2 separate regions of the Homo sapiens genome follow, and region 1 is linked to region 2. The links come from fine-mapping of genetic effects on gene expression. A gene starts in region 2. The other region holds a variant in brackets. All regions are shown on one strand. Distances are between the middles of the regions. Region 1 overlaps ZSCAN25 (zinc finger and SCAN domain containing 25). Region 2 holds the start of ZNF789 (zinc finger protein 789).

Region 1 (11,736 bases), 150 kb after region 2:
GTTCAAGGTTGCACTGACTTACATTCATGCCGCTGCACTCCAGCCTGGGCAACATGGGGAGACCCTGTCTCTACAAAAATAAATAATTAGCTGGTCATGGTGGCACTCGCCAGTAGTCCCAGCTACTCGGGAGGCTGAGGTGGGAGGATCGCTTGATCCTAGGAGGCAAAGGCTGCAGTGATCGCACCACTGGTCTCCAGCTGGGGTGATAAAACCCTGAGATCCTGTCTCAGAAACAAAACAAAAGAGTCACAATGGGTGGGGGGAGATAAAGAATAGCAATGGGGCAATTTCTATTTGTCAAATGGCAGAGATAAAAGATGAATGAGGATCTTTCTTGCCTCCAGGGAATCTGTTAGAGGGAGACACATGGGTAAACATTTGCACTGTAGTGCATTAAATGCACTAGTGGAGTGAACCAATGCAATAGCTAGAAAGGAATGAAAGAGAAATCTCAATGTTGCAGAGTCAATGAATAGACTGAAAATATAAACTTGGTTTAAGTGGGGGTAGATAAATACACAAACTCACAATAGAATATTTAGCAGAAGCTTTGGGGTGTGCCTCCTGCCAGCTGCCCATTCTCTGCTCCAGTCAGGTGATCTTTCCGTTTTCTGACAAGCAGGATCTCCTTCCCCTGGTGCTTTGGACTTCCAAGTCTGTCTTCCCAGTCTAGGTCTTCCGCATAATCCACTTGGAGGTAAATAGGACTCATTCTCCAGTCTACTTCAAGCCTCTTCTTTTCCTTGAGTACTTGGACTTAGATTAGTTTTCTCTCTTTTTGACTTCACATTTTTTTTTCAATCTGTACCATGTATTTTGGGAGGCAGTTATCATCTAGTCTCTTTTTTTTCTTCTGAGAAGTAGGAGGAGTAGCACTCATCCTACAGAAGTGTTTTAAGTATTAGATGAAATATGTGTTCACATGCTTTCTAAAGAGTAAAGCCTGTACAAGTTAGAAATCTTTAGGTCATTTGTCATAATGGTATATATGTTGCTCCATTGTCTTTTTCAGGTTGAGCGCACCATCACATCTAAGCCATCAGCAAGTTTGTTGGTTTTAATCTCCAAAATACGTCTTGATTTTGTCTGACTCTTTGCCACCACCCTGATCTAAGCCCTTATCATCTGCTTGAATCACTGTAAGTGCCATTTCCCTCTTGCCACCTCTAGCCTATTCCCTGTCAACACACAGGCAGAATGACTTTTATAAAACATGTAGTTCCTCGCTAAAGTAAGAAATAAGAATAAAGTTCATAATTCTTTCTGTGGCGCAGGCTCTGGGTGATCTGGTTTCTGTCTGCCTCTGCCACCTCTTCTGGTGCAGCTCTGCTCGTCACTGCTGAAGCCACACTGGGATATGGCTTGTTCTTGGACACCCAGAGTAATTTCTTAGCCTCAGGGCTTTTGCCTGGAATGCTCTTAGAATGACTGACTCATTCTCATCCTTGAGTCAGCCTGGTATCATGTCTTTAGAAAAGCCTTCTTCAAGTCAGTTGCCCCCTGTTAACAGAGCACCCTACTTATTTTCTTTCTAGAACTTGTCTCCACTTGCAGTTTTTAAAAGAGTTGCTTCCATTTGACTTTTTCTGTCTGCTGTACCAGCATATGAGTTTCAGGAGGGTAAGCTCCCAGTGTGTCTTGTTTTCTATTTTATTTGTTGTTTCTGCCTGCCTCTTGTGTGTGTATATGTGTGTGTTTGTGTGTTGCATGTATGTTTCCTTTAGTATTGGAAGAGTAGGCCCTGGTGACTCACCCAGTTATAACCCATTATATATTATTCTCTGATTGTAGTGTTATTCTCCAGTGAGATCCTAAGTTATTTGTGGGTATAAAAGCAAAATCTTAGACATTTTCTGTTTAGTCTCTGTACCTAATAGTTGCTTAGCAAATGATTACTATGTTGAATTGACCTGACTTTTGGGATCTGTGTTCAGTCTTTTGAAAATGCCTTGTAAAAGGTAATTACTGTGTTCTCCAGTGGAATATTCCTTGATGTAGAGACAGAACTGGGATGGGCTGACCTTTCATGTGTCTCTTGTTCTCAAAAGGGTCATTGATGCAGTCATTCTCAGTCTCCTCGGAGGGAGTCTGAAGATGCTTAAAGAGCATCCAGAGATGGCGGAAGCTCCTCAGCAGCAGTTGGGTATTCCTGTGGTGAAACTGGAGAAAGAGTTGCCATGGGGCAGAGGAAGGGAGGACCCTAGTCCAGAGACTTTTCGGCTGAGGTTTCGGCAGTTCCGCTACCAGGAGGCAGCTGGACCCCAGGAAGCTCTTAGGGAGCTCCAGGAGCTCTGTCGTCGGTGGCTGAGGCCCGAGTTGCACACCAAGGAGCAGATCCTGGAGCTGCTGGTGCTGGAGCAGTTCCTCACTATCCTGCCCCGCGAGTTCTACGCCTGGATCCGGGAGCATGGCCCAGAGAGTGGCAAGGCCCTGGCCGCCATGGTGGAGGACCTGACAGAAAGAGCACTGGAGGCCAAGGCGGTGGGTGAGGAGGGGATCCAGGTCTGGCGCCCTTGGCGTGGGCAGGGAATGTTAAAGAATCCAAAGATTTGAGGAAGCAGTAGGAGTGGACGAGGTGTGGAGCCGCCCTCCTCTGCCCTCAGACTCCCTGAGGTTCTTTTTGGAGAGCAGTGGCGTTTTCAGCAAGAAAGGCCATTCCCAGGGGAGATGCTGCCATGCAGAAGGGCCTGAAGCCTCTGTTTGGTCATGAGGGCAGAGGCCTGGCCATATTTCCCTTGTGGGCATCAGGCAAAAAGAAGGCAGTTGTGATTGTTTTTGGGGTCCCTCATAGACCTGACCCTGCTTTGGACAGAGATGCCTCTGGGAAGGCAGAGAATCCCACCTGGGGAATATTTTTCCGGAAAAGGGTTGTCCATGGCAGTACTGTTTCTCTGTGGCTCATAGGGCTCCTGTAACAATTCTCTGGTGCTGCTCTAATGACACCAAGTGATTTGGCACCGCACGTGCTTCCTTGAGGTTCCAGCCATATTTCGGTCACTTTGTGGTACAGCCCCCTGATGGATGACTGGGAAAGGAGAGCAGGACTGATGACACCGTCTTGCTCACAAGCCCCCGTCCTTCTGTAGTTCAGCCTCCCGTGCACACTCTCGTCACCCTGACTTCCTGTCTTCAGAATCCTAAGAGAATTTTTTCCTACTCAACTCAGGAGCTTAAAAGTGGACCCAGAAATGCCTTGTTTTTGTGAGTACTTCTCAGTGAGAGAGTCCTCCTGATTTTTCTTGCTCTTTTTAATTTATTATTTTTGAGACAGGGTCAGTCAACAGCCTAGGCTGGAGTGCAGTGGCACAATCCTAGCTTACTGCAGCCTTGAGCTCCTGGCTCAGTTGATCCTCCCACCTCAGCCTCCTGAGTAGCTGAGACCACAGGCATGCATGCCTGGCTAATTTTTTTATTTTTTGTAGAGATGGAGTCTCGCCATGTTGCCCAGGCTTCCTGGCTCTCTTTAAAGCAACTATTTCTCACTGGCCTGTTCACTGCAGGGTCTAGGCTTTGCATTTTTTATTTTCAGCTTTTTCAATTAGGAATTTTTTTTTCTAGTAGTGAGTATATTGTGTTAAAATCCTCAGCAGGATAATATTTGGGCTTGGTGATGGCAGGTAGAGGGGACCCTTGTCAAATGGCGTGGACAGATAAAAGTTGCTCAGGGCCTGATGCATGAGTTTAGCTTCCTTTTCACTTCCTCACTAATGTCCTGGGGAAGAGCTCAGCTGATTTTTCCTTCCTCTCCCCTGAAGCTGGAATGGTTCTTTTCTTGGTTCTCTTTTTAGATTTTAGTTCAACTCCCTTCATAACAGCCTTGCCCAGGCCTCATTCTAATCGGTGTTGGGAACTGTTCTTAGGTTCCATGCCACAGGCAGGGAGAGCAGGAGGAAACAGCACTTTGCAGAGGCGCTTGGGAGCCAGGCATCCAGCTGGGGCCAGTGGAGGTCAAGCCTGAATGGGGGATGCCCCCTGGGGAAGGAGTTCAAGGTCCAGACCCAGGTACCGAGGAGCAGCTCAGTCAGGACCCTGGAGATGAGACACGGGCCTTCCAGGAGCAAGGTGAGTAAGACGCAGATAGTGGGGATGTCAGGTCATAGGAAACAGTGCTGTGCAGCCAACTCTCTTCAGAAACCCAGCAATGGAGCAACTAAGTTACCCACGAGGTGTAATTGTGAATTTTCTTGGCTACTTCCTCCACCTTAGGAAATAGATGAAGTGAAATTGTTTCTTCTCCCTTTACCCTCTGGTGTCTGGAGGGGATATCTGGGATCATGCTTTCTTATTATTTCTCTTTTCTTTCCCTCAGATCCCTTCTAGAAACTACCAAGAAATATTCAGCTGACTTGCAGGAATACTTTTTCAGTAGGCAGATAAACCATATCCCCCAAAGTAATATGTAGCTTTCTTTCTTTCTTTCTTTCTTTTTTGAGATGGGGTCTCACTCTGTCACCCAGGTTGGAGTGCAGTGGCGCGATCTCAGCTCACTGCAACCTTTGCCTCCTGGGTTGAAGCAATTCTCCTGCTTCAGCCTCCCAAGTAGCTGGGCCTACAGGCATGTGCCACCATGCCCTGTTAATTTTTTTGTATTTTTAGTGGAGACGGGGTTTCACCATGTTAGCCAGGATGGTCTCGATCTCCTGACCTCGTGATCTGTCCACCTCAGCCTCCCAAAGTGCTGGGATTACAGGCATGAGCCACCGCGCCCAGCCCACGTAGCTTTATTTTGTTATTGAATCTCATAGGAGGTTATTCCCAGAGTGTGACTGGGTAGCATGGGTAGCCCTGGACGGACAGGGCCGGGACAATCTTGCCAGCTGAGAACAGGAGACACCCAGGCCCCAGCTGAGAATAGGGCAAGGGACACCCAGGCCCCTGTGCATGGGAAAGTGTGGTACCAGAGTGAAAAGGGATTCTGTCTGGAGTCTTCTGGTTCCTGAGGTTGTGAGCATCTGGTAGGGGACACATTTGAACGAGCTAACAGCATAACATCACTGATCCTTCTGATCTTTCTCATGCTTTTTGTCCCTGCTCAGCACTACCTGTTCTGCAGGCGGGTCCTGGCCTCCCCGCAGTGAATCCCAGAGACCAAGAGATGGCAGCTGGGTTCTTTACTGCTGGATCGCAGGTGAGCTCTGACTCCCTTTGCAGAAATCATGACCGTTGCTTTGATTGAGGTTCACCTTCCCCAAGGTTTCTCTGCACAACAGTGTTCCCTTCCCGCCCCAAGTTGAGTCATTCTCCCTTCCTAGTCCCGGTGGACCTGATGGTGTGGTTTCCTCCACTGAACCATCAGCCGCAGTTGTTAATTTACATC[G/A]AACCTTATGTCTGTCGCCCAGGCTGGAGTGCAGTGGCACGGTCTTGGCTCACTGCAGGCTCCGCCTCCTGGGTTCACATCATTCTCCTGCCTCAGCCTCCCAAGCAGCTGGGACTACAGGCACCTGCCACCTCGCCTGGCTAATTTTTTGTATTTTTAGTAGAGACGGGGTTTCACCGTGTTAGCCAGGATGGTCTCGATCTCCTGATCTTGTGATCCACCCACTTCGGCCTCCCAAAGTGCTGGGATTACAGGCATGAGCCACCGCGCCCAGCCACAGATGGACTCTTACAACTGTTACAGATAGAAACCCCCTAGGGCTATCTAGGCTGTGCTGATTGGCCCCGAGATAACCCTTTGTGGGTGCCGTTTATGGGTACTTCTGCTGCTGATTTTTCTGTTTTGGAAACTTTCCTGTCCCCTAACCTCAGCAGGAATGTGGCTGACTCAGGGTTGGGGCTTTCAGAAGCATTGAGCAGGGTGGTCTCTTTGGCCATACAGGCCACACTAGGAGTTGGACCTCGTTAACATTACTCATCTGCCACAAATGAGGTAACTGAAGCATAGATGGGGTGCTCTCTTTTCCACAGGGTGCTGAGCACTAGTAGCAGGGAGGTGGGGGCTTTCCAGTGGGGCACCTTCCTCAAGGAGGCGAGTCTAAAAGAGTTCTTTGAAGAAGAAAAGGTGTTTGGCAGAAAAAAGAAGGGGATCAAGTCTGGTCCTGCTCAAGCCGTATTTGGGCAAGGCTGGATGCCAGCATCATTTCCCTTTTCCTGTTCTCCAAGGATGTACTTTGGAGGGGATGAGGAATGACATCAGTGCTTTTTAATTTGGTTGGATCCTCCCTTGTACCATAATAGTTCTTCGTGGTGCAGTGAGTGAGAAATTGAGGATGCATTTATTTTATCACAGCCTTGTTCTTAAGACAGGGCTTGGCCGAATGTGAACTTTGTTCTTGATGAGAAGGTAAATAGCGGCTGCCAGGCTCTGTCAAGCATGAGGTGTGAGTGGGAGGCTGCTGCAGAGTGGAAATGAGGTGACTTAGTTGTTAGGGGCAAGCTGAGCCCCAGCCACAGAGGCTCACAACTGCAGTGGCTCAAACAAGTGGATTACTCCCATTCAACTGTTGGGAGGAAGCTGGTTGGGAGGAAGTTGGATTACAGACATGAGCCACTGTCTCTGGCCTAGGATTCTTTCTTTATTCATAGCAATCTCCTATTGTTGCAGGGGTTGGGGCCATTTAAAGATATGGCCCTGGCCTTCCCTGAGGAGGAGTGGAGGCATGTGACCCCAGCCCAGATAGACTGCTTTGGGGAGTATGTGGAACCGCAGGACTGCAGGGTCTCTCCAGGTAAGACTGTCTCCACCCACAGGTGAGGAACTGGGGAGTTCTGAAAGCTCAGGTCAGGGGTCCTGCCGTAGCTCTGGCGCTCCTGGCAAAGGAAGGGGACTTCATGGCAGGCGGGTAAATGGGTCCAGCACGGACCATGGGGCACGAGGAGCTGCTTTCCTGTGTCAATAGAGGAGCCAAATGATGGAGCAGGAAAACATGAGGCCATTATTCTGGCTGTATGGAGACAGGTCGGTCATGAGGACCCCCAAACACCTACATTGTGTCCATGATTAAAGACACTGAGGGCTTGAGAACAAGATACGAACAGCAAAAGATGGGGCATCTGAGCTTGTTCAGATATTTATTGAGTGCTCCCTGCATGTGGGCCCTGTGTTAGTGGTTTTCTCTTGCGGCAGGAAGTGGGCAGGACTAACGTGCACGAAAGCGTTGGAGCTCACGGTGTGCACGTAGGAGGGCACGAGGGGGCTTCGCGATGGGAGAGGTTGGAGTGGCCCGAGTCACAGAGGAAGCAGAGCTGCGCTGGGACTCAGGTGGTGGCTGGGTTTGACCTGGGCTCAGAGCCTGGGGGGATGCGGCCATTGTGTGTGACAGCAGCTCATGGGAGGAGGAGCAGCGAGAGAGAGCCCACAGGGGCTGCCAGCAGAGCGCACTGCGGGGCTTTGGGGCTGCCAGGGCAAGGGACAGTATGGAGAGTCTGCATGCGTGGAATCAGGATGCCGGCGGGGAGAGGAAACACTGTGGCTGGAGCGGCCTGTCCTTGTTCTTTGATTTTCTTCTTTTTTGTTTCATAACTTCTTTGTGAGTTGTACACTGACCACCCATCTGTACCGACCCCACCTAGCCTTTCCTTATCCTGAAATGCCTTGAAGGAAGAGCAAGATTATCCCTGTGCTTCCTTCAGGACGTAAGAGAATCCATCCTGCCCCTCCACTTGCTGACCCTGACCTTGAGCATCTCCCTTGAGCTTTCCAGGTCTCAGTTTCCTCTGTTGTGGAATGGGGCTGTTCATGGAACCTGTCCTCATGGTGCCATGAGGATGAAGGGAGGTGACATATCTAAATGTGTGGTGACCATGGTAGTGTTAGATTGTTTAGTTAGTGCTGTAAGTATTACTAAGGGATTCTTGTAGGAGCCCTCAGCCTTCACTCATTTATTCACCACAGAGGTGGACTTGGCTCTGTGGCCATTGCTGTTCTGGTCACTATGAAGAGTTAAAAATAAAGGCGCTTGCCTGTGGGGTCTTAGAGTTCAGGGGAAGAGGCCATGTGCATGTAATAGTGGGATACGGTAAGGGGCACTGGTCTCCTGGGAGACCTGGGTCCAGGGCACGGTTGACACAGTGTGGCAGTGATGCAAGTGGCAGAAAGATGTCAGCATACTTTATGTGGAGATGTGTGATTGCTGTAACGGCAGAGGATGACAGAACAAAGCAGGGGCTCGAGTGATGAGCCCCAGACAAAGGTGCCAGTGTCCTGGTGCCAGGGTCCCCCTCAGGGATATTCCCCTCCCAGTGATGCTGCTGTGTGGGGTGAGGAGCCCCTCGCCCCCATTCTCAGAAGATTTTCATGCTCTCCTGGCCATTTCTGACTGTTCTGGAGACTGGTTCTGTCCTTGTCCCCTCACCAGCTCAGTGTCTCAGAACTCAGAGCAACTCAAGCCCATACCTGAACATTTCTGCCGCCAGGTGACACGAAGGCCTGTTTCCCAAGTGTACCATTCACTTGCTGTCCCAGCTTTCAGGTCTTCCTGGGATTCACACTCGGGTTGTCCTGGTGCTTGTACTGACAGCTGCTTGGGGCTGGGCCTGAGCTGCTTCACCTGTAAAGAGACTGAATGCACAGGGCAGGGTTGAGCTAGGTGGCTGCCCAGATCACTTCCAGTTGTTCGTCTGTTCTCATTAGCAGACGGTGAGGTGCAGACCTTGTTGTCTGGGTTGTAATTGCAGTAATGTCCACAAGGACTGGAGCAAGAACTCACAACAGGATTTGGAATCACAGAGGCAAAAAGTAGCAGGTGCAGAAACCTGAATGCAGGACTCTGCAGGCTGGTTCCCAGGATGGTGAGGGTCCTGGAGTGAAAGATGAGTGCTCAGAGGAGTAAGGAGGAGGCAGGAGTGAGTAGAGTGAGGCCGCTGAGGAGTCCGTGAGGACTCTGGGTCCTTGTTTAAAAATTTTTTCTGCGCAGAGTAATGTGATGGAGGTTTTACTTGAGGAAAATTGGATTGACGGCAGGGTACGGCCAGTCTGGAGGGTTGAAATAGTGTAGGCACTGGGGTAAGAGCAGGAACCAGGCCAGTGGTCATGTAGAAGGGGGTTTACTGAAATATGCTTCCAAGGATGGGCCACAGATTGGCCAGAGGGGAGGAAAGAGAAGAGTCAGAGAGGAGTCTACGTCTTAGGATCCTGGCTAAGGGCCTGGAAAAATTATGTTACTACTGTCAGAAAGAGAGGGAAGCATTTTCCTAAGAGGGAGGAAGAATGGAAAGTTCCATTTGTTGACTTTGAGATCTAAGTGGATGGTCCCTGGAAGTAGCTGCAAGTCAGGTACATGGTCTGGGAGTTAAAATAATATCATGAACCATTGCATTCCTGCTCCATGTGTGCAGTAAACTTCATGAGTGTACAATCCATTTTGAAGGTGGTGAATGTAAGGCTCAGAGAGGTTAATTGATTTTCCCATGATCACACAGCAATTGAGCAGCCAGTGCAGCACTCAAAACGGGTTTCTCACTGCTAGGTCCCTTCTCTTCCACTACTGTGTCTTTCTCCCAGTGTCTCTGTTTATACTTAGGTATCATTGTATTTATTTTTCCCCCAGCTTTATATTTTGAACTCTTATTATACAAATTTTCAAACATACAGAAAAGCTAAGACTAGTACAGGGAACACACTTAGGTCTTTATCTACATTCACCAATTGTTAACATTTGCCATATTTAGCTGTATAATGTGTGTTTTGTTTTGGAATGATATGGAAGTTGGAGGCATCTCAATCTTTCATTTGTAAATACTTCAGCATTTGTCTAACAATGACATTCCCAACATAGCCCAGTAGCATAATTTCATCTAAGAAAATAAACATAAATTCGATATATGTAACATCTAGTGCATAGTCAGCTTTCCCCAAGATCTAGTTGTGGTTTGTGCATTGCATTTAGTTTTAATCTTACTATTCATAACACCTCAAAACTGAAAACTACCCAAATGAACAACAGTCAAATTAATAAGTAGGTTGCAGTCTATCTGTATCTGTATATCTATCTATATATACATACACACACACACATACATATACTCAGTGGAATACTGTATACCAATGAAAAAGAATAAACTACAGCTTCACACCATGATATAGGTGAACGTCACAAACATGATATTGAGTAGAAGAAGCCAGAAACAATGTGTGAGACAATTACCTGAAGTTCAAGAACAGGCAAAAAAGTCCAGACAATGTGTTCCCGTTGGTATAGTATATATGTATACTATATACGTATATCATGTATATGCTGTATACGTATATCTCGTATATGCTGTATACGTATATCTCGTATATGCTGTATACGTATATCGTATATGCTGTATACGTATATCTCGTATATGCTGTATATGTATATTGTATATACTGTATACATGTATATGCTGTATATGTATATACTGTATATGTATAGTATATATATGCAGGGTATAGTGATGGAGGAGATGTAAAAGGGGCTTCTAGGGACTGGTTATGTTCTGTTTGTTGAACTGAATGCTGTTTACGTGGTTGGGTTCGTTAAGAAAATTCTTTGCATAGTGTGTGGTGACGCACACCTGTAATCCCAGCACTCAGTGAGGCAGAGGCAGGAGGGTCACTTGAGCCCAGGAATTCGAGACCAGCCTGGGCAACATAGTGAGGCCCCCATCTCCACAAAAAGGAAAAAAAGGGTAACGTGACATTTTTTAGCCAGCGCTGGATCCAAAAAAATAAAAATAAAATCTTTGCGTGTACAAAACATAAATGGCTTGTACACTTTTATTTTCATGAAAAGTTTACAAAACAAAATCCAAGCTGATAAGTATGTATTTCATATTTTATCAAACCAGGAGGCATATACTGTCAGGTTTTTTTTGTCTTCTAGTCATCTTGCCTAAAAGGACTCTTCCGCTTTAAGCACCACTTATTTCTCCTTTTCTTTTTTTCTCTTTGCCTCTTTGTTCCCCAATACCTTTTCTTTTCTTTTTTTCTCCTCCCCTTTCTGTTACTCTTCCATAAACACCTGTTCCGTTAATTTAGAGAGAATATAAGAAGGATCAGAGTGAGGATGAAGGAAGGGTGAAGCTGAGCATTTCAGCAGCGTCATGGTCTCAGTCCTGATAAATATGCTACCTAGGGGCGTTCTCCTGCAGGAGCCTCAGTGAAGCCTGCTTCATTCATTCAGCCAGCAGTTAGCAAGCATCTTCCCTGAGTCAGTCCCCTGCCAGGCTCCTAGGAGACCCAGATGAATGAACCTGGTTAGGCAGAGGGAGCATGTGGGCAGGACAGGGGACTGAGCAGGCACCTGGAAGGTCTGGAGAGCTGTGTGCTGCCCTGTGCTACAGCAGGTGTAGAATCGTTTGGGGAAGGCGCAGGACATCTGGATGAATGGAAACAGCATTTCCAACAAAGTCACATGTAAATAGGTACAGAATAATAAAGTGCTAGTTAGGTGCACAGTGCTGAAGAGGCCCAGAGTAAGAGAATAATCGTGGTGAGTGTCTTAGAGGAAATTATTGAGCTACATTTTGTAAGAAGTAAAGGTCTAGATTAGCAGCAAGATAAGTGGGCGGGCACTGGAATTTGGCAGACTATTCTGTAAAAAGACATGGAGGTGGAAATAAGGAAAAAGAAGTAAGGAAAGCCTGAGTTGAGGTTGTTGGTCAAAGGAAAAAAGAGAAGGAACCATGAATGGGACCCCTGTGAAGCAGAGTTCTAACATGTAAATGTCCTGCGGCTACCACAGAATCAATCTTTATCTCCTCCTGTCCTGTAGGCGGTGGGAGCAAGGAAAAGGAGGCAAAACCCCCACAGGAAGACCTGAAAGGGGC
Region 2 (15,671 bases):
CTGCTGCTAATTCATATTTCCCTCACTTTATGTGCTCATGAAATACTGTCTTTGTCCTCTGGTGACAGACACTACCTAAAAGATCATCAATACCTAAGAGACATGGACTCCAATTTCTTCACCGGGGGTGATGCTGAATAGGCCAGGCATGTGACATGACCCTGCCTAAAGGTCACAAAGTAAAGGCTGGGATGACCAGCTCACACCGACTGAGTACTCACTGTGGGCCACGCAGCGTTCCAAGTGTCTTTCACATGCTAAATCGATTGATCCTTAGTTCAGAGCTCTTGACCACAGCCCTATGCTTAAACAAAATGCCCCAGTGTTCACTTTTCACAGGTTGTCTCCTTAACACAACTACCGTGTACGACGAATGCTATTATGCCCATTTTACTGAGGGGAAAACAGCTTCCCTCTCATCTATTCTGAACCCCTCTTCATTTCTCTAGGCTGAGATTAAGAATACAGAGGCCGGAGGCCGGGCGCAGTGGCTCACACCTGTAATCCCAGCACTTTGGGAGGCTGAGGTGGGCAGATCACAAGGTCAGGAGATCGAGACCATCCTGGCTAACACAGTGAAACCCTGTCTCTACTAAAAATACAAAAAATTAGCTGGGCGGGGTGGCGGGCGCCTGTAGTCCCAGCTACTCAGGAGGCTGAGGCAGGAGAATGGCGTGAACCCGGGAGGCAGAGCTTGCAGTGAGCTGAGATCGCGCCACTGCACTCCAGCCTGGGCGACAGAGCGAGACTCCATCTCAAAAAAACAAACCAGAGGTCAGGCGCAGTGGCTCACGCTGGTAATCTCAACACTTTGGGAGGTCGAAGCAGGTGACTCACTTGAGGTCAAGAGTTTGAGACCAGCCTGGTCAACGTGGCGAAACCCATCTCTACTAAAAATACAAAAAAAAATTAGCCGGGCGTAGGTACTGGTGTGTGCCTGTAATCCCAGATACTTGGGAGGCTGAGGCAGCAGAATCATTTGAACCTGGGAGGCAGAGGTTGCAGAGACGAGATCAGCTACTGCACTCTAGCCTGGGCGACAGCGTGAGACTCCATGTCAAAAAAAAAGAATACAGAAACGCAGTGGCTCACACCTGTAGTCCCAGCACTTTGGGAGGCCGAGGTACATGGATCACCTGAGGTCAGGGGTTCAAGACTAGCCTGGCCAACGTGGTGAAAGCCCGTCTCTACTAAAAATACAAAAATTAGCTGGGCATGGTGGCCTGCGCCTGTAATCCCAGCTACTCGGAGGCTGAGGCTGGAGAATCGCTTGAACCCAGGAGGCAAAGGTTACAGTGAGCCGAGATCACACCATTGCACTCCACCCTGGGCGACAAGAGCGAAACGCCATCTCAAAAAAAAAATGATAAAAAAAAACCAGAAACTGAGCTAAGACACACATGTGTTAATCAAAACTCTGCCACTATCAGGCTGTGTGACCTCAGAGAGGCCACACCACATCCCGAACAGTTATTTCCCTCATCTGTAAAATGGAATCGACTTTCCCAACAAGGACTCTCTGACAAGGCTACTATGGAGCATCTAGGGCTAACTATTCAAAAACAAACAAACAAAAATCATCAGTGTGCACAGCGGGATGAATGTAGCGATTTACACATGGGTGTCTCGGAAAAGCCTGCTAGTCATAAGGCCGTCCTAGAGAATAAAGTTCATTTACCACGAATCCTCAGGTTTGAATACCAGCTCAGCCCTCGCACGAGTTGTGACCTTGAACAGGTCACCTCGCCTCTCTGATTCAACATATATGCATCGAACCTTACATGGTATCAGGTACAGTCCTAGTCCTGAGCTCCTCCTGGAGCTTCATCTGAGCTTAAGCCTTGGGAAAAAAGGGCAAAAGCTGCGCCTAACATTCAAGTGCAAAGCAACTGGGTCGCAGCGGGAGAGGGAAGCGGCTATTTCTTAGCGGAAAGAGGAACAGTGGCCCAAGGCGGCGCATTCCCAGGCCCAGAAGCGCGTGCCCCAGATGCCTTCACCCTCCACGCCTAACCCGGTTGGCGCAGGCCCTGGGCAGCAGGAAGGCGCGCCTGGGCAGGCGGAGCGGGGTCTGGCGCGCCTCAAGTGAGGTCGTGGCGAAGTGCCTGAGCAAAGGGCAGGCAGCTCCGCAGCTTCCTTCTCTCCCAGTGTGGCTCTGGACCCTGGACCCTGGCTCCTGCTTCCACCACGGAGTCCAAACAGCCTTACCTGGGGCCGGACACTCACCAACTGACGCCATTTTGGAGTCCTGGTGTCCGCTGTGCCGGACCGCGCGAGGGCTGCTGGGTAGGGAATGCACGCCCCATCCAGGGGCGTAGAGCAGAGGCTCACGGGAAGCAGGTCACAACTGCGAACACCCTGGAACTACTAGAAGGCCATGAAGCGAAGGGCGAGGTGCCTGGACAGCAAAAATCCGAGGGTCCTGCAGTTAGAGAGAGGGGCGCCTCAGCCTGGGCTCTCTACCTTAAAAGGTGGGAAGAGGCCGCGCTGGGACTACAAGCGTGCACCAGCACAGCAAGCTAATTTTTGTATTTTTAGTAGAGACAGGGTTTCACCATGTTGGCCAGGCTGGCCTTGAACTCCTTTCCTCACGTGATCCCCCCGCCTCGGCCTCCCAAAGTTCTGGGGTTACCGGCGTGAGCCACCGCGCCCAGTCTATTTTTATTTTTATTTTTTACTTTTCAGACGAGCATTTACTTTTCAGACAGTGGCTTGATCACGGCTGACTGCAGCCTTGAACTCCCGGAGTCAAGCGATCCACCCATCTCAGCCTCCCAAGTAGCTAGGACTACAGGCTCACATCACCACTTCCAGCTTTTTTTTTTTTTTTTTTTTTTTTTTTTTTTTTTTGGTGGAAACAGTGTGGTGAGGAGTGGGGGTAGAGGCTCTCTATTTTGCTCAGGCTGGTCTTGAACTCCTGGCCTCAAGCGTTCTTCCTCCACCTCCGAAGTAGCTGGGACTACAGGTGCACGCCACCACGCCCAGCTAATTATATTTTGTAGAGAAGGCGTCTCCCTATGTTGCCTAGACTGCTCTTAAACTCTTGGCCTCGAGCGTTCCTCCTACCTCGGCCTCCCAAAATACTGGAACTGCCGGCATGAACCACACTGCCCGGGCTACTTCAATTTTGATTATTTTAATTAATTTATTTATTTATTTAGAGACAGAGTCTCGCTCTGTCACCCAGGCTAGAGTGCAGTGGCGCGATCTCGGCTCACTGCCAGCTCCACCTCCGGGGTTCACTCCATTCTCCTGCCTCAGCCTCCCGAGTAGCTGGGACTACAGGCGCCCACCACCACGCCTGGCTAATTTTTTGTATTTTTTTGTATTTTTAGTAGAGACGGGGTTTCAACATGTTAGCCAGGATGGTCTCAATCTCCTGACCTCGTGATCCACCCGCTTCGGCCTCCCAAAGTTCTAGGATTACAGGCGTGAGCCACCGCGCCGGGCCTCCGATTTTTAAAACAACCTCGAGAGCAGGTCTTGTAGTCATAACTTGCCAAATAAATGCCACCCTCGTTCAGTTCATTCTGCTACATTTCTTGTTTCAGAGGTGGCATTGTGGGGCTCCTCCATGTCTGCTTCCCTTCTCCCCAGGCAGTGAAAATCGCATATACAATTATAGGTGTGTGAAAGCACGGCCAGCATCGCCAGTGGGAATTAAAAATGGTTAAAAAAACAAAACAAAACAAACAGGCCAGGTGCGGTGGTTCACGCCTGTAATCCTAGCACTTTGGGAGGCAGAGGTGGGCGGATCACTTGAGGTCAGGTGTTCAAAACCAGCCGGGCCAACATGGTGAAAATACGAAAAAAATTAGCTGAGCGCGGTGGCAGGTGCCTGCAATTCCAGCTACTTGGGAGGCTGAGGCAGGAGAATCACTTGAACCTGGGAAGTGGAGGTTGCAGCGAGCGGAGGTCAAGCCACTGCACTCCAGCCTGGGCGGCAGAGCAAGACTCTGTCTCAAAAAAAACAAAAAACAAACAAACAAAAAAAAACCAGGCTGGTCGCGGTGGTTCACGCCTGTAATCCCAGCACTTTGGGAGGCCAAGGTGCGCGGATCACCTGAGATCAGGAGTTCGAGATCAGCCTCCTCAACATGGCAAAACCTCATCTCTGCTAAAAATACAAAAAGTAGCCAAGCGTGGTGATATGCGCCTGTCATTCCAGCTACTCCAGAGGCTGAGGCGGGAGAATTGCTTGAACCTGGGAGGCGGAGGTTGCAGTGAGCAGAGATGGGGCCACTGCACTGCAGCCTGGGTGATGGAGTGAGAACTTGTCTCCAAACAAACCAACCAACCCCAGCAAATATAGTAGTGTACTGCGGTAGGAGTGTTCTCAACGGTTCCTTGCACCCTTGAACTCTCTGTCTTCAAAGTTTATTTCACTTGCTCCTTGCGGTGTGTGTTGACCATCCACGGTATAATGCGGGTATAATGTAGTCTTAGGAGTTTATTACCCGCCTTGGGCTGCGTCCCTAAGCAACTGAACCCCCAGGAAAAACCCTGCCCATTGCACCAGGGCCTATGTAACTCCCACTCCCCAGGGCTGGGGCAGATGCCAGGGCTGGGGCAGAGGGCCCCGCAGGAAGGATCAGGGATGGGGTCTGCCGGACCCCAGGTGTCAGGTCCTCCGTGGGGCAGGAATCGGCCTGGGGACCTTCCTGGTCCACCCAGGGAATCCTCCTGCAGGGTGCGAGTATGGGACCTGGAAGACTACGAGGGACCGAAGAGACCCGACTGCACTGTGTCCGGGCAGAGGCAGCCTCCGGGAGCTGATGGACTTGAGGGCTGGGGCAGGGGAAGCTGAGGGGGCCGCTGTTCCGTGGGACGTGCAGGAGAGCAGCAAAAGGCAGGAGTGGCCAGTGGCACCCGCGCCCCCGCCCCTTCCCCAGGCCGGACACTCGCGGGGACGCAGAGCCGCCGGAGCCCAGGATCCGCACACTGGAATCCAGGGAGGCCCCGGGAAGAGGCCGGAGGGAAGCTACGCCAATGCCCGATCCCCTGGGGTGGATGGAAGGACTGAGGGCGCAGGAGCTGTGATTTGTATATGTATAAATGCCAACGTTTTAGTTAATGAACTGGGGTTGTTTCGGGGAAGGTGGGGGTGGGTTGGAGGGAGCAGATTATTCCAAAGATAATTTTTTTTTTTTTGGTAAGAGACGGAGTCCCGCTCTGTCGCCCAGGCTGGAGTGCAATGGCGCGATCTCGGCTCCCTGTACCTCCGCCTCCCGAGTTGAAGCGATTCTGCCTCAGCCTCCCGAGTAGTTGGGATTACTGGCACCCGCCACCACGCCCGGCTAATTTTTATATTTTTAGTAGAGACGGGGATTCACCATGTTGGCCAGGCTGGTATCGAACTCCTGGCCTCAGGTGATCCGCCTAGCCTCGGCCACCCAAACTGCTGGGATTACAGGCGTGAGCCACCGCCCCCAGCTTGAACATAGTACTCTTTCGTTGATCTGGCCCTCGTGCAAATTCTTAGTGCTCCCCAAGCAGAGGGCTGGGGAGAAGAGAATCCGGATCCCTGACAACCCCGCCCCAGCCTTCTCTGCTAAGCTGCGTGAAACATTTTCCACTGTGGCTTCCCAAACGTGTCTCCTTAGGAGACTACACAGCCCGAGGCAGGTGAATTTTCCCGAATGACAAGAGGATTATTCCCGAACCCCGTGGTGGCGTCTGCTTCTATCCTGTTTCGTTTACTTTTACACTTCCCTCTGAATTACAAAAGGGAAAAAGAACTCTTTAGGGTCCATCTAAAGCACAAAAAAGTTAGGTTTCCAAGACCTCGTGGCGCAACGGCAGCGCGTCTGACTCCAGATCAGAAGGTTGCGTGTTCAAATCACGTCGGGGTCAAACATGTGATCATCCCTTTCTTTAGCCAACAGGAGTTATAGCTTGCCGGTAACTCTCAACCTTGGACACTGTATTTTCTGTTCTTTAGCCCTAAAGATTTATTTGCGTAGGTACTTCAGCAGTGGACCGGCACCTTAGCTAAAGTGTGAGGAAAAATTCAGAACCAATACTTAGGTCGTGCTGTTCACATCTGTAGCAGGATTTATCAGGACTGTGCCTCAGACAGTACATTCACAGGACTTCAGACAGGACCTTAAAACAGTGCAGGAGCACTTTGGGAGGCTGAGGCGGGCAGATTGCTTGAGCCCAGGAGTTCAAGACCAGCCTGGGCAACGTATCAAAACCGTCTCTCAAAAAAAAAATAAAAATAAAAAAATAAACAAACAAACAAACAAAAAACAACGATAAAAGCAAAAGCAAAAATGCCAGGTGTAGTGGTGCATACCTGTAGTACCAGCTGCTGCTTAGGAGGCTGAGGCGGGATGATCCCTTGAGCGCAGGTCGAGGCTGCAGTGAGCTATCATTGTGCCACTACACTCCAACCTGGGTGACAAGGTGAGACACTGTCTCTAAATGAAAAAATAAATAAAACGGTTCAGAGCTCGGGAAATAGTTGCCTTCCCAATCCAAAAACTACCTGCCCACCCTGGGGGCTGCTATCCTTGGAGAAGCATTGGTGGTGCAGCCTGATCTCCAGCATTTGAAGTTCCAGCACCACTAGCACAAAGCGTTATTCAAAACAAATGAGGAGGAAGTCAGTTGTCTTCCCCGAGCCGCTCCTATGGGACTGCGCTGGCCTGACGTGTCATCCGGCTCCCTCCCCACATTCGTATTCCTGGAACGACCTGCTGGACTGAGTTCCTTGTCCTCTCCCTAGGGGTGGCCAGGCCTGACCTCACTGCCTTCCCTATGTTCAAATGTCTTGAACCTGGAGTACTGAGTGTTCCTGTTTTCTGTTAAAGCCAACAGGAGCCAGGTGCGATGGCTCATGCCTGTAATCCCAGAACTTTGGGAGGTCGAGATGGGAGGATCGTTTGAGCCCAGGAGTTTGAGACCAGCCTGGGCAACATAGCAAGACCCCATCTCTTTTATTTTTTATTTTATTTTATTTATTTATTTATGAGACAGAGTCTCACTCTGTCACCCAGGCTGGAGTACAATGGCACAATCTCGGCTCCCTGCCACCTCCGCCTCCTGGGTTCAAGCGATTCTCCTGCCTCAGCCTCCCGAGTAGCTGGGATTACATACTCCTGCCACCGAGCCCGGCTAATTTTTGTATTTTTAGTAGTGACGGGGTTTCACCATGTTGGCCAGGCTGGTCTCGAACTCCTGATCTCAGGTAATCTGCCTGCCTTGACCTCCCAAAGTGCTGGAATTGCAGGCGTGAGCCACTGCACTCAGCCAACACACATATGTTTATTGCAACACTATTTACAATAGCAAAGACATGGAACCAACCCAAATGCCCATCAGTGGTAGACTGGATAAAGAAAATGTGGTACAAATACACCATGGAATACTAAGCAGCCACAAAAAGGAATGAGATCCTGTCCTTTGCAGGGACATGGATGAAGCTGGTGGCCATCAGCCTCAGCAAACTAACACAGGAACAGAAAACCAAACACAGCATGTTCTCATTCATAAGTGGGAATTGAATATTGAGAACGCATGGACACAGAGAGGGGAACAACACACACCTGGGCCTTTTGGGGAGTCGGGGGTAAGGGGAGGGAACTTAGAGGATGGGTCAATAGGTGCAGCAAACCACCATGGCACATGTAACAAACCTGCACGTTCTGCACGTGTATCCTGTTTGTTTTGTTTTGTTTAGAAGAAATAAAAAACAAACAAAACTTGGGAGGCCAAGGCAGGCGGATCACTTGAGGTCAGGAGTTCGAGACCAGCCTGGCCAAAATGGTGAAACCCCGTCTCTACTAAAAACACACACACAAAAAAAATTAGCCGGGAGTGGTAGCGGGCGCCTGTAGTCCCAGCTACTCAGGAGGCTGACGCAGGAGAATGGCGTGAACCCGGGAGGCGGAGCTTGCAGTGAGCCGAGATCGCGCCACTGCACTCCAGCCTGGGCGAGAGCGAGACTGTCTCAAAAAAAAAAGAAAAAAAATTAACCCCTTACTCACATTAAAACTGTATTTTGGGGGTAATTTACATAAGCCACACAATTATCCTTTTAATTAAGATCTAATATTCTTTTTTTTTTTTTTGAGACAGAGTCTCGCTCTGTCGCCAGTCTGGAGTGCAGTGGTGGGATCTCGGCTCACTGCAAGCTCCGCCTCCCGAGTTCAAGTGATTCTCCTGCCTCAGCCTCCCGAGTAGCTGGCACTACAGGCACGCCGCCACCATGCCCAGCTAATTTTTTTTTTTTTTTTTTTTTTTTTGAGACGGAGTCTCGCTCTGTCACCCAGGCTGGAGTGCGGTGGCGCAATCTCGGCTCACCGCAACCTCCGCCTCCCGGGTTCAAGCGCTTCTCCTGCCTCAGCCTCCCGAGTAGCCGGGGTTACAGGCAGGCACCACCATGCCCGGCTAATTTTATTTGTATTTTTAGTAGAGACGGGTTTCTCCATTGTTGGTCAGGCTGGTATCGAACTCCCGACCTCAGGTGATCCACCCGCCTCGGCCTCCCAGAGTGCTGGGATTACAGGCGTGAGCCACCGCGCCCGGCAATTTTTTTGTATTTTTAGTAGAGAAGGGGTTTCACCATGTTGGCCAGGATGATCTAAATCTCTTGACCTGATCCGCCGGCCTCTGCCTCCCAAAGTGCTGGGATTACAGGCGTAAGCCACCGCGCCTGGCCCATTTTTCTTCTTTTATCTGATAACCTTACTCCCCTCCACAAACACACAGCCAAAGAAACGAATTGTGTCGCTCTTGAATCATAGAATAATTCTAAATTATGTTACGATTAAACAGGAGGGGCGGGGCCCTGTCCATCACGTGACTCTCTCGGTGCTGTCTCCGGCCGTTGATTGGCCTGGGCGGGGAGGGCGGCCGTTGATTGGTTCGGGCCCACTCGCGCGGGCGCCACTCTCTTTGTCTGACAAGAGAGTCGTGAAGCCTCCGCGGTCCTAGAGGGGCCGCTGGCTGGGACGCTTCGCTCGGCGCGCGCAGGTGGAGCCAGCGAGAGGCTCTGAGGCTGCCAGAGTGGTTGTGTCTGTTCCTCCGGTAAGGGGTGATTCGCCGAGGGGCGCGGACCAGACAGACCTCGGGTCAGGCCCGGGAACCCCGAGAGGAGAGCCCAGCCCCTGGTGGAGGCGGCTTGGCGGAGATTCGGAGCCGTCAGCAGGTTTGGGGAGAAGGAAACGAGTGTTGTGGGGGGCGTGGGTGCGGGGGGTAGGCCACTGCGCACACCCCCGGCTCGCAGGGGACGCTCCGGGTTTGTGCGGCGGCTCTCGGGGCCTGTGGCACCAGCTTTTGAGTATTTTTGGCGGTGTCAAGTCTTCGGCAGCGAGAGGAGCAAAGTCCGAAGAATGAATGGATGGTGAACGCCTGGACTTGGTTTTGTTAGAGTGGGAGATGAGCCGTGGTTGTTAGTGGAAGGTGTTCACGTGATTGTGAAGCGGCATTTTGGATTTTGTCAAAAGTTAACAGTCCCCTCCAGTTAAAGTTTTAAGAGTTTATTGTGCATGCAGAGGAACAGCTGGCAAATTGTTCCAATGGCAGCTTGGAAAGCTAAATGAGGAAGTGCAGTGATCTTGATTGTAATTGGCCATTATCAACTTGCATTCCTTCTAGGGTAAGTCGAGCTGGATCAGCCTCGCATCTGTAGCTGATTGGTTCAGTTTATCATGCGGACGAGAAAAAAGCTTCTTTCCTGGTCAGCGCACACTTTTCAGGGAAATAAGGAATTGTTGTTGCTGTTGTGTTTGAGACGAAGTGTTACTCTGTTGCCCAGTTTGGAGTACAATGGGCCAATCTCGACTCACTGCAACCTCCAACTCCCGGGTTCAAGCGATTCTCCTGCCTCAGCCTCTCGAGTAGCGGGGACTACAGGCACGCGCCACCATGCCCGGCTAATTTTTGTATTTTTAGTGGAGACTGGGTTTCACTATGTTGGCCAGGCTGGTCTTGAACTCCTGACCTCATGATCCGCCCGCCTCGGCCTCCCAAAGTGCTGGGATTTACAGGTGTGAGCCACCACGCCCGGCCTGTTGTTTTTAAGAGAGACAGGGTCTTGCTCTGTCACCCAGGGTGGAGTGTAGTGGTGCCATCATAGCTCATTGCAGTCTCCAACTCCTGAACTCAAGGGAGAAATCAATGTATTTTAAATGCCTTACATGGCTGTGGGTGGTTGGCCTAGGGCCGTACCCAAAACATGGACTCCATTTAATTTTTCATTAGCAAGTCTGACATTCAGATGCACAGCCTTCACAAACACATTCAGTAAATATAGTGCAGGGGTGTCCAATCTCTTGGCTTCCCTGGGCCACATTGGAAGAAGAATTGTCTTGGACTACACATAAAATACACAAACACTAAAAATAGCTCATGAGCTAAAAAAAAATCGCAAAACAATTTCATAAGGTTTTAAGAAAGTTTACGAGCCGGGCGCGGTGGCTCACGCCTGTAATCCCAGCACTTTGGGAGGCCAAGGCGGGAGGATCACGAGGTCAGGAGATCAAGACCATCCTGGCTAACACGGTGAAACCCCGTCTCTACTAAAAATACAAAAAATTAGCGGGGCGTGGTGGCGGGCGCCTGTAGTCCCAGCTACTCGGGAAGCTGAGGCAGGAGAATGGCGTGAACCCGGGAGGCGGAGCTTGCAGTGAGCCGAGATCGCGCCACTGCACTCCAGCCTGGGCGACAGAGCGAGACTCCACCTCAAAAAAAAAAAAAAGAAAGTTTACGAATTTGTGTTGGGTTGGATTCAAAGTCGTCCTGGGCCATATGCGGTCCACAGGCTGAGGTTTGGACAAGTTTGGTGTAGAGAATGAAAGGGATGAGGCCTTTGCTCCAGCCTTGGAGCCATTGATCAGGATAGTTTTTAGAGTGTACCTCTTTGCTTAAAAGGCAGAGGGTCCACCCTGGGCAACATAGCAAGGCCCCACCTACAAAAGAACTACAAACAACTGGGCGTGGTGGTGCACTCTTGCAGTCCCATCTGCTTAGGAGACTGAGGCAGGAGCATTGCTTAAGCCCAGGAGTTGGAAGCTACAGTGAGCCATGATTACACCACTGCACTCCAGCCTGGGTGATAGAGGGAGACTCCTCAAAAAAAAAAAGAAAGGCAAAGGGTCTTCTAAACTGTTTTCAGGGAAGGTGAACTGTGTTTGAGGGGCATCCATTAAAATGAAAGTGAATTTCATTAAAATTCATCCTGAGTTAGAAAGCAAGTCTGTAGGCTGGGCGCAGTGGCTCACGCCTGTAATCCCAGCACTTTGGGAGGCTGAGGTGGGTGGATCACCTGAGATCAGGAGTTCAAGACCAGCCTGACCAACATGGTGAAACCCCATCTCAACTAAAAATACAAAAAAGTAGCTGGGCATGGCGGCGGGTGCCTGTAATCCCAGCTACTTCCGGAGGCTGAGGCAGGAGAATCGCTTGAACCCAGGAGGCGGAGGTTGCAGTGAGCAGAGATCACACCATTGTACTCCAGCCTGCACAACAAGAGTGAAACTCTGTTTAAAAAAAAAAAAAAATCAAGTCTGTAATTGTTACTGTTGCTGAATCCTGCTAGCAAATCACCAGGCTAGAGGTGAGGGTTGAGTGACCCCTTTAGAACACTTTCAGAGGGGGCTTGTCAGCAGGTGGAGCTGGCTGTAGGAGCAGGGTTGGAAATACGTAAGTAGATTTAGAGAAAGAAAAGCTGGTGAACTGGAATCCCTAGGATAACTAGACTCGGACATCCTGTGTGATAGGGGAGGGGAGCATTTGGCTTTCTCCTGTTGGTCCTAAATTAAAGGGAGTGGGGAGCAAAATTTTGGATAAAGCTGTTATTGATCAAGTCCTGATTTGGGGCCCATGCCTCAGAGGCTATGGTTTGGCTTCCAGAGCTGGTTGCTGCAGGGTGTGGATCAGAGTGCTATTTTTTCTTTCTTTTTTTTTTTTTTTTTGAGATGGAGTCTTGCTCTGTCACCAGGCTGGAGTGCAGTGGTACAATCTCAGTTCACTGCAACCTCCGCCTCCCAGGTTCAAGCGATTCTCCTGCCTCAGCCTCCCAAGTAGCTGGGAGTACAGGTGCCTGCCACCTCGCCCAGGTAATTTTTTGTATTTTAGTAGAGAAGGGCTTTCACCATGTTGGCCAGGATGGTCTCCATCTTCTGACCTCGTGATCCACCCGCCTCAGCCTCCCAAAGTGCTGGGATTATAGGCGTGAGCCACCGTGCCTGGCCAGAGTGCTATGTTTATATGTGGTCTATCTGCTGTCCCTTTGTATATGAGGTGCAGAGTATGACATGTTCTAGGGAGAAGGGGAGGGCAGGGCTGCAGGTTCTCTTGGATGGAGCTTGGGAAATTGAAATTACTAGACTTATTGTAGCGGCTCATGCATTTCATCACATGTTCCAACACCAAACACAGGGACTTTGTATTAAGCTTTGTCTGTGTGCCCCGTTGGAATTCCGGGTCCCAGATCTGCCAACCAAGAGAGCTTCAAATTAGGGCTGGCCTTACTGACTTTTTTTCTTCTCCAGCTCAGCCAGACGTCCAGGATCCCACCCCTTGCAAAAGACCAGGCCGTGGAAGCCATGTTCCCACCAGCCAGGGGGAAGGTGAGCTGTGCCTCCCCCTCTGCTTCATCAGCATAGTCACTGCCACCAGCAGCTCCTTCCTCAGACTGAGCCCTCTTGATCAATGTGGGGAGTTTTCCTTCTTAGACAGTGCAATGTAGAGAGCTTAGCCTCTGGAGTCACATGGGCTTCCTTCAGTTACATAAACACTCTGGCTCCAGTTTTCTTTTCTGTAAAATGGGTCAGTGAGAGTGCCTATCACAGCGAGTTGTGAAGATTCAATGAAAAACACCCTGTGAAGTCCTTTGTGCAGTATCTGGTTACTCGTTTAGCACTGTGTTAAGTTGTTGCTCTTATTACCGTAGTAGTTGCCCATTGTTTCTGTCTGTGAGCATTATTGTGCACCTACTGCTGTACACTCCAGGTGCTGTTTTCTGTGCTGGGAGATCAACTCTTACCTGTAGGAGATTACAACCTGATTAGAGAGATAGTTGTGTAAGGAACTTCTCATAATAAATTCTGAACTGTTCCTATGAACGGGTATAATGGAAGGTCAGTTATTGAATTTGTAGCATTATGGAGGGTGATTAGAAGAGACTGAGTTGTTTTGTCTTTTTTTTTTTTTGACGGAGTCTCACTCTGTTGCCAGGCTGGAGTGTAGTGGCGCGATCTCAGCTCACTGCATCCTCTGCCTCCCGGGTTCAAGTGATTATCCTGCCTCAGCCTCCCAAGTAGCTGGGACTACAGGCGAGTGCCACCACGCCCAGCTAATTTTTGTACTTTTAGTAGAGACGGGGTTTCACCATGTTGGCCAGAATGGTCTCCATCTCTTGACCTCGTGATCCACCCACCTCAGCCTCCCAGAGTACTGGCATTACAGGCGTGAGCCACTGTGCCCAGCCTGTGTTTTGTCTTTTTTTAGACGGAGTCTCACACTGTTGCCCAGGCTGGAATGCAGTGGCATGATCATGGCTCATGGCAGCCTTGACCTTCCCAGGCTCAGGTGATCCTCCCACCTCAGCCTCCCAAGTAGTTGGGACCACAGGTACATGCCACCACGCCTGGTTACTTTTGTATTTTTTGTAGAGACAGGGTTACACCATGTTGCCCAGGTTGTTCTTGAACTCTTGGCTTGAGCCATCCACCAGCCTCAGCCTCCCAAAGTGCTGGGAATCCAGGTGTGAGCCACCGCGCCCAGCCTAGAAGAGACTGAGTTTGAAAGAAAGGAGAGGACCAGTGGCTCATGCCTGGAATCCCAGCACTTTGGGAGGCTGAGGGGGGTGGATTGCCTGAGGTCAGGAGTTTGAGACCAGCCTGGCCAACATATAGTGAAACTCCATCTCTACTAAAAATACAAAAATTAGCTGGGTATAGTGGCGCATGCCTATAATCCCATCTACTTGGGAAGCTGAGGCAGGAGAATTGCTTGAACCGAGGAGGTGGAGGTTGCAGTGAGCCGAGATCGCGCCATTGCACTCTAGCCTGGGCAACAAGAGCGAAACTGTCTCAAAAAACAAAAACGAAAACAAAAACCCAAACAAACAAAAAATGGAACTTTTAAGCAACATTTGGTGCCCATCTGTCAATGTACAAGTCCTAGCTGTTGATGGGTTCTTGGAAACTGCAACTTTAAGGGAAACTATGTATATCAAAACCGTTTTTTTTCCATCAGTGTTACAGTGAAACAAAGTTATTCAAGGACCTGCTGCTGTACATACTTTTGCTAAAAATCAGTTTCCAAGAACCTATTGTGGATGTTAGGAGAGGAGTTACCATGCCACAATGACTCTGGGAGATGAAGCCATTTTATTCCCATGCTTGTTAACCTTGTGCAGGTGCGGGAATGCAGATGGCTGAGTAGGTCAGATTGAGGACATGGCAGCGCAGCTCTGGTAAAAGAGTGACACTCTGGATAATGGTGAGAAAGGGCCTGCAACCGTAGCAGTGGAACTCAGGTTTGATAGGCAGGAAAGAAAGTCCGTATAATTTGGGAGGTTCTGGTGCCTGCCTGCAGAGGGGAGCTACGTGAAGCTTCTCAGGATGGTCTCAGGATGGGGGTGGGCATTTCCTGTTACTGACCACTTATAGGACAGCGAACGTTTGCCCTTTCCCTGCACACATCCCCTCTGAACCCATGCAGTGTCTTGTGAGAGCAAGGAGTGTGTAGACAGCCGCTGGGCCCCTTTGCCCAGAGGGCTGCAGTGGTGTGGGAGGGAGAGTGTGGCAGCTTCAGTGCTCAGCCCACTGGAGGGGGCAGTCACTTGCAGATGTAATGTCCCCTGTGCTCACTGTGCTGTGTCCACTGTTGCCCACTCTGGATATGCTCCCCAGGCGTCTGCGCCTTGGTCTGTACCTTTTATATTCTCCAGCAACGGGCTCCCCTGGTCTCTGGCATCTGCTTGGCTTGTGGCAATGGGATGAAGAGGGTTGGAGGACAGGGGACAGGGCGCCGGAGGCCTGGGGAAAACTGAGGTTGGGTTTCTCTTCCCACGGCTCCCTCCCCACTGGGCTGTGGGATGGGTGTGGCTGCATCCTGTTCAGCCGCAGCTGGTCTTGCTCCCCTTCCAGCAGCCTTCTGGGCTCCAGCAGCCCTCCCCACCTTACCCCTTCAGACCTAGCAGGCCCTGGTTCCCCAGGGTGGCCAGGACCTGCGAGCTTCCACATTTCTTGTTCATGTTCATTGAGACTATTCATCCCTTTGTAAATAGTCTGCACATTAACCAACCCCCCAGTGACCTCATCTCTTTCCTAAGGAACCTGGGGCAGAAGCAATAGGTTATTTTTATAGAGCAGCGGTCAGCAAACTGCCCTGGACCGCTTGGTAAAGTTTCCCTGAAACACAGCTGTGCCCATTCGCTTACTTGTCCACGGCTGCTTTTGTGCTCCAACACAAAGGCTGTTCCTCAGATTGTTGATTTGCTGTTCCTCTAATCAACAGCAGATTTGAGGAACTGGAACAGAGACCAGAGGGCCTGAAAAGCCTAAAATATTTACCATCTGGCCCTTTAGAGATTAATTGTGTCGACCCCGTGGTATGGAAGCCAGCACATGTCTGGCCTGAGGGCCATCAGGCCTGAAAGGAGCCCTGAATATATTCCTTATGAATTGGGTGCCCTTGGCCCACACTCTACCTCCCAA

What was found.
Region 1: its variant is fine-mapped to the expression of ZNF789 in whole blood (TOPMed, PIP above 0.99).

Annotation. Positions count from the first base shown.
Region 1 is chr7:99,617,510-99,629,245 of GRCh38, forward strand. It overlaps ZSCAN25 (zinc finger and SCAN domain containing 25), which reads left to right. Exons shown (of 8, transcript NM_145115.3): 2 at 1,016-1,142; 3 at 1,539-1,623; 4 at 2,052-2,484; 5 at 3,864-4,065; 6 at 5,040-5,131; 7 at 6,548-6,671; 8 at 11,682-11,736. The coding sequence starts at 2,098. Among named protein-coding and RNA genes, the nearest start is that of ZSCAN25, 6.4 kb to the left of the region's middle. The variant G/A (reference allele first, on the strand shown) is at 5,321.
Region 2 is chr7:99,463,906-99,479,576 of GRCh38, forward strand. ZNF789 (zinc finger protein 789) reads left to right here and starts at 8,985. Exons shown (of 5, transcript NM_213603.3): 1 at 8,985-9,151; 2 at 12,498-12,575. The coding sequence starts at 12,552. TRW-CCA5-1 (tRNA-Trp (anticodon CCA) 5-1) reads left to right here and starts at 5,779; the gene lies at 5,779-5,850. It overlaps ATP5MF-PTCD1 (ATP5MF-PTCD1 readthrough), which reads right to left and starts at 2,262. Exons shown (of 9, transcript NM_001198879.2): 1 at 2,224-2,262. The coding sequence starts at 2,236. It overlaps ATP5MF (ATP synthase membrane subunit f), which reads right to left and starts at 2,262. Exons shown (of 4, transcript NM_004889.5): 1 at 2,206-2,262. The coding sequence starts at 2,236. RefSeq lists enhancers at 1,431-2,048, 2,049-2,664, 8,225-8,384, 8,605-8,694, 8,985-9,274 and 1 more.